Linked DNA regions of Homo sapiens. The protein of the gene in region 1 purifies or fractionates together with the protein of each later gene. This does not show direct contact. Each region holds a gene or a part of one and is shown in the gene's direction. Other genes may lie near its edges. The genes, in order: CMSS1 and MME.

Evidence for each region.
Region 2: the proteins of CMSS1 (region 1) and MME purify together in Homo sapiens (co-immunoprecipitation; one study listed by IntAct). This does not show direct contact.

What each region holds. Positions count from the first base shown.
Region 1 is NC_000003.12:100,170,670-100,174,496, forward strand, and holds part of CMSS1 (protein CMSS1), read left to right. Parts: intron 1-1,169; coding exon 1,170-1,230; intron 1,231-1,646; coding exon 1,647-1,734; intron 1,735-3,827.
Region 2 is NC_000003.12:155,181,307-155,184,519, forward strand, and holds the end of MME (neprilysin), read left to right. Parts: 3' UTR 1-2,398; downstream 2,399-3,213. UniProt on the Homo sapiens protein: Thermolysin-like specificity, but is almost confined on acting on polypeptides of up to 30 amino acids. Biologically important in the destruction of opioid peptides such as Met- and Leu-enkephalins by cleavage of a Gly-Phe bond.

The sequences.
Region 1 (3,827 bases):
TTTATAGAGCAGCTGTTGGTGCCAGCTGAGGACCTGATGCCAAAGTAGAGGTAGAAAGGCAGGCACGGCAGGTGCACCAGCGCCGTCTCAGCCCTCAGAGCTGGTGGTCTGGATTGTTGTAGATAGATCTAGCTTCTTGACTACCTAGAAACTAAATGGACTGCCTGTCCTACTGGTGTAAGCCAGAGACTGTAAAGTGACAACTCAAAGGCTAAGTTTACCCTACAAGTGTTTGGCACCTAAAAAATTTGTGAGTGACTTGCCCATATTTAAAATCAGATTGCACATATAAAAATCTAGATTTCTGGCTTCTCTAAAAATCAGAGAGTCTTAGGCCCATAGTCTCACATCATCATAACTGGCAAAGCTGAGCACTAGTTGACCCCTTTACGGGGGGCATCACTCTCAAGTGCCCCTCAGTCTTCACCCCTGCTTCCCAGATCACCTCATTTACAATAACCCCCTGCCCTCATAGCTTTAATTCAGCCAGTCCTTTGTGTCAGTGGTTTCTTCTTACTTTTTTTCCTTCCTTCTTTGCTTCCTCTTTCCCTTCCTTCCTTCCTTCTTTTCCTGCTTTTTGGCTGAAGCTTCATTTCCACCTATAAAATTTTATAGAGGAATTTAGTCTACAAAGTAGATAAGAAAGGACAGCTGTGATAGAAGGATAGAAGCCCCCCCTCTTCCCCCTTTCAAGCTCATCTCCTGGCTTCCCTCATGGCCACCACAGGCAGACCTTTGTAGATGCCCTTGGCTCCACAGAGAACGAGCTGACATCACCGCTCCAAGATATCTTTTGCAACCAAATTTTGTATGAGAACTGCACTGCATAGTTGGAAGATGAATTTTCTGCCAGGGACCTGAAATACAGGAATTCTGTATTACAAATGAAAGGCAGGTCATGTGTTTCAGTAATCAAGGAAGCCTAAGTAAGGTTGACCTTGTGTATGGCAGTGTAAAGCCAACCCAGATATGTGCCTGAATAAAAGGCCACCCCACTCTCATTGCAAAGATTGGCTAACCTGCAAATCTCAGAATTTGTATGTACATATGCACATATATACACACGTATGCACACATCCTTTGAATAAAGCAAGACATAATACTTAAGTAGTCATCGTGGCCTAGAATGAGTTGGTTTTCTTAAGCATTCACCTGCTTCTTTTCATTAGGTCGATGACAGCATTCAGAGGAGACGGCAAAGTTATAAAATTATTTGCAAAGCACATAAAGGTAAGCAAGGGCCTGTGTGATCCCTAAAGGCCTCTCCCAGACCTCAGCTTTTTTCCTTTCAACCTCTTCTCCTAATCTCCTTAGCACATATTTTATTGAGTTCCTTCCTTATGTAACATTTAACAACTTTTCTGGTTTTTTAAATTCTATGCTTCTGCATACCTACCTCCCCAGTATGGCAGTCGCTACTGCCATGCTCTGTCCCTGTATAGAACCTGAGGCTTGACCCTTTGATTCCTTGAAGATTACCAGTTTTCTAGGGATATGCTCATCTCTGCCCTGGAAGTCGACCCTACACAAGGGTAGCTCCATTTGTATTTCACTTTCTTAACTTTGAGATAAAATGTTCTAAATTGGTGTAAGATAGCACTTTCTTAATGACTTCCTTTTCTTTCTTCTCTTTCATCTTGGAACAGGTCCAGGCGCAGGTAAAGTTGCTGGAGAAGCGTGTGGTGCACCTGGGTGTAGGAACTCCGGGGAGAATTAAAGAACTTGTTAAACAAGGTATGACAAGAGGGCAGTGATACTCTTGCCCAGGGCTGGGAGTTTGCCTTACCTACATGTGAGTCTCAGAAACTAAATTCAGGATATACAAAAACCAGACCTCTGTGTTAATTCAGGAATTGGAAACTCAGCCTTTAATCTCTGAAACCAACCAGCAAGTATAGCACAATAGGGAATGATAAGGACTGTGGCAAACTGAAGTACGTGTGCCCACCTAAACAGAGTCAAATTCCAGCTGCTATAAGCAGGTTAGTGGTTCCACATAGCCTTCATTCCACCAGTGTGCAGCCACTGCTTGAGTTGAGCAGTTCCCTGTCACTCCACTGAGTCTTGGGGAGACTCCCATTTTGAGGGCTGGTATATAAAACATACTAAAACAAAAAACGTAGTTTCCATGAATGTAATGCAGGCATTCCATAATAGTTCTTCCCAAATGTGTTTCTCTTTTAGTGCTTTACAGAAAGTATTCTAGACAACATCCACTGGTGGGTTTTTATAGTTTGCCAACTTTCTCAAAGCCAGTAGCCTAAGAACCTGCTAACCTGCCAATTATCTTATTACCTCTTCTACCTACCAGGCAGATTGAATGATTTCTTTTCAATACTTATTTCCAAATTACTTATGTATTATATAATAGAGCTTTTTTTTTAAATAACTGTCTGGAGCTATTCTCAGATTATTTTATATATCTAAAAGTAATGTGTTCATCAGTGTAGTAACTCATTATAGAGATGGTCATTTGCCAGGGAGCAACAAAAGCTAAAACTACTGTTGTTTCTCTCCAGATGAAAATCATCCAGGGTTAGTTGAACCCACTATATGCAGAGTTTTGTACAAATACCAACAACTAACAAATTTGGCTGCCCCTGACAAGGAAGGGAAACAACACTTTCGAGTTCCTACTTGTACGCAGCGCTACGCTTGACACCCTTACATATGTTACCTCATTTAGCACTCACAGCATCCTTACAGGCTAGCCTTTTTATTTTTTATGAGAGAGAACTGAAGCTCAGAGGGTTAAGTCACCCTCCCCAAGGTCTGTCAGTCTAGGCTCTCCTGGTTCTAGAGCCTTTTCCCCTCAAGGAGCTCCTGATCCAGCTGAAGAACTAAGTGTACATAGACTGAGATCGATAGCATGAGGCAGTAAATGCCAAGAGCCAAATGAGCACTTCTAAGTCCTACAAGAGTTGAAATGAGAAAGAGATAGTTATGCTGGCCTGAATCTGCAGGGCAGGGTCTTTAACTGATCTTTGAAGTGTGGGGAGGATTGAAATAGGCCGGGAGGGTCAGAGGAAGCATTCATGAATGGGAGAACAGCCCAGTGAGATTCTCAGAAAGCAGGCACATGCACATGGTATATCACAAGGAATTGATGAGGAGGTAAAACAATGTTGCAGTTAAGAGCCCCTGTGATGGACTCAGACCTCCAGATTCAAATCCCAGGTCTAGCAACTTACCAGCTCTGTGACCTTGGCAAGTTACTTAACCCTTCTCAGCCTGTTTCTTTGTGCGAACAACAGGGATAGTAATAGTAGCTACTTAGAGGTTTGTTATAAAAACAAAATGCCAATAAAGAGCTCAGCACAGTAAGTGTCACACCCTAAACACTTAACAAATATTAGTTATTTATTAAAGAGACCAACTTTCTTGCTTGGAAACTTCGTGGGCTCTAGTAGCAGCTGATGTAACTGGAAAGAAATTTGAGGAAAGTCCTTGAACAGTAAGCTGAGGAGTTTGGATTTTTGTCTTGTGGACATCCTATGGCATTTGAAAGTTAAGGAACAGATGAGAGGCACCAAGGCCTTCTATGAGACACAGATTTGGGAGTAATTGGCTGGGTATCAGAAGCTAAGGATGGACTCTCAGGTTGGTTCCTGCCTCCCTAACAGCTTTTAGCTAAAGATTCACCACCAGCCCCTCCTGGAATCCAGATTTTTTTGTGTGTCACCAGACTTCCCCAGCCCCCACCCCATGCAACAGGATTACTCTTCTCTGTATTTAAAAGAAAGAGAGGAAGAGAAAAAGCAAAGCTATCCAGACTATTGAAATCAGATCTCTACAGAGTTGTGAGACCTCAATATGAAGGCTTATTT
Region 2 (3,213 bases), about 55 Mb from region 1:
TATAAAGCGATATACAGATGAAAATTTGAGACTATTTAAACTTATAAATCATATTGATGAAAAGATTTAAGCACAAACTTTAGGGTAAAAATTGCCATTGGACAGTTGTCTAGAGATATATATACTTGTGGTTTTCAAATTGGACTTTCAAAATTAAATCTGTCCCTGAGAGTGTCTCTGATAAAAGGGCAAATCTGCACCTATGTAGCTCTGCATCTCCTGTCTTTTCAGGTTTGTCATCAGATGGAAATATTTTGATAATAAATTGAAATTGTGAACTCATTGCTCCCTAAGACTGTGACAACTGTCTAACTTTAGAAGTGCATTTCTGAATAGAAATGGGAGGCCTCTGATGGACCTTCTAGAATTATAAGTCACAAAGAGTTCTGGAAAAGAACTGTTTACTGCTTGATAGGAATTCATCTTTTGAGGCTTCTGTTCCTCTCTTTTCCTGTTGTATTGACTATTTTCGTTCATTACTTGATTAAGATTTTACAAAAGAGGAGCACTTCCAAAATTCTTATTTTTCCTAACAAAAGATGAAAGCAGGGAATTTCTATCTAAATGATGAGTATTAGTTCCCTGTCTCTTGAAAAATGCCCATTTGCCTTTAAAAAAAAAAGTTACAGAAATACTATAACATATGTACATAAATTGCATAAAGCATAAGTATACAGTTCAATAAACTTAACTTTAACTGAACAATGGCCCTGTAGCCAGCACCTGTAAGAAACAGAGCAGTACCAGCGCTCTAAAAGCACCTCCTTGTCACTTTATTACTCCCAGAACAACAACTATCCTGACTTCTAATATCATTCACTAGCTTTGCCTGGTTTTGTCTTTTATGCAGATAGAATCAATCAGTATGTATTCTTTTGTGCCTGGCTTCTTTCTCTCAGCCTTACATTTGTGAGATTCCTCTGTATTGTGCTGATTGTGGATCTTTTCATTCTCATTGCAGAATAATGTTCTATTGTGGGACTTATTACAATTTGTTCATCCTATTGTTGATGGGCACTTGAGAACTTTCCATTTTGGCGCTATTACAAATAGTGCAACTATGAATGTACTGCATGTTACCATCTTACTTGAGCCTTTAATGGACTTATTTCTTCAAATCCTTCCAAAAATTATTATAAGCATTGAAATTATAGTTTCAAGCCAACTGTGGATACCCTTACCCTTTCCTCCTTTATCACAACCACCGTTACAAGTATACTTATATTTCCCTAAAATACATTTAAAACTTACCTAAGTGACATTTGTAGTTGGAGTAATAGGAGCTTCCAGCTCTAATAAAACAGCTGTCTCTAACTTATTTTATTTCCATCATGTCAGAGCAGGTGAAGAGCCAGAAGTGAAGAGTGACTAGTACAAATTATAAAAAGCCACTAGACTCTTCACTGTTAGCTTTTTAAAACATTAGGCTCCCATCCCTATGGAGGAACAACTCTCCAGTGCCTGGATCCCCTCTGTCTACAAATATAAGATTTTCTGGGCCTAAAGGATAGATCAAAGTCAAAAATAGCAATGCCTCCCTATCCCTCACACATCCAGACATCATGAATTTTACATGGTACTCTTGTTGAGTTCTGTAGAGCCTTCTGATGTCTCTAAAGCACTACCGATTCTTTGGAGTTGTCACATCAGATAAGACATATCTCTAATTCCATCCATAAATCCAGTTCTACTATGGCTGAGTTCTGGTCAAAGAAAGAAAGTTTAGAAGCTGAGACACAAAGGGTTGGGAGCTGATGAAACTCACAAATGATGGTAGGAAGAAGCTCTCGACAATACCCGTTGGCAAGGAGTCTGCCTCCATGCTGCAGTGTTCGAGTGGATTGTAGGTGCAAGATGGAAAGGATTGTAGGTGCAAGCTGTCCAGAGAAAAGAGTCCTTGTTCCAGCCCTATTCTGCCACTCCTGACAGGGTGACCTTGGGTATTTGCAATATTCCTTTGGGCCTCTGCTTCTCTCACCTAAAAAAAGAGAATTAGATTATATTGGTGGTTCTCAGCAAGAGAAGGAGTATGTGTCCAATGCTGCCTTCCCATGAATCTGTCTCCCAGTTATGAATCAGTGGGCAGGATAAACTGAAAACTCCCATTTACGTGTCTGAATCGAGTGAGACAAAATTTTAGTCCAAATAACAAGTACCAAAGTTTTATCAAGTTTGGGTCTGTGCTGCTGTTACTGTTAACCATTTAAGTGGGGCAAAACCTTGCTAATTTTCTCAAAAGCATTTATCATTCTTGTTGCCACAGCTGGAGCTCTCAAACTAAAAGACATTTGTTATTTTGGAAAGAAGAAAGACTCTATTCTCAAAGTTTCCTAATCAGAAATTTTTATCAGTTTCCAGTCTCAAAAATACAAAATAAAAACAAACGTTTTTAATACTATTGCTTTTATGCCTAGTCAACTCTGTTCCAAACTGCCAACTCCTGTGTAAATCTCTACCCCATTTATTTCTTGAAAAATATTAAGATTAAATGGAGCTTTTATCTCTGTAGTCTTGCATTTCCCACTAGCTTCAAATTGAATTTTTAGAAAATGAATGATATAAGCTTTGTATCCATTATGTCCTTGTTTTCCCCACCCTTTTTCAAAGATCACCATGACTTTCTGATTGGATTTTTTTTCAAAAGTGAAATGGCCATCAAATGTTATATGGAGTCACTAGCATAATCAGATGACTTAGGCAAAAGCCAAAAGTAAGTGTCTTTATCCACAGTCTCTAGTCTGAAGAAGTTGACCATTTGGTTGGTCAAGTGGACAGAGGAGTCACATCTGACTGGTGGTCAAACTGGCACATGTTTATCGCATTCTAATCTTTTATCTAACAATGGTTTCTTAATTTCTGCTTCTTTGTATTTTGCATTTCCTCTAAAACAGTGAGAAACACTACTTTCACTTTCAACCTCATAGACAAAATGTTGTGCTTCTATTTTGCTTGACAAAACAGATCTTCTCAGTTGTACAAAGGAAGTCTGGCAGAAAAATAATCATTGGCTCTTGCCAGAAATAATGATGAGTTTCCAACTTGGGGAAGTATAGAAAGACTGGAAAGACTAATATTTATGATAAATGTTTATACTCTGGATTTTCCTTCTACCCAGAAACTGACAATTTTGCGGGTATTAGGCATATTAGCATCCCATTTCACTCTTATAAATACACTTGATAGAATCTCCAATCTGACATTTATGCTATATCC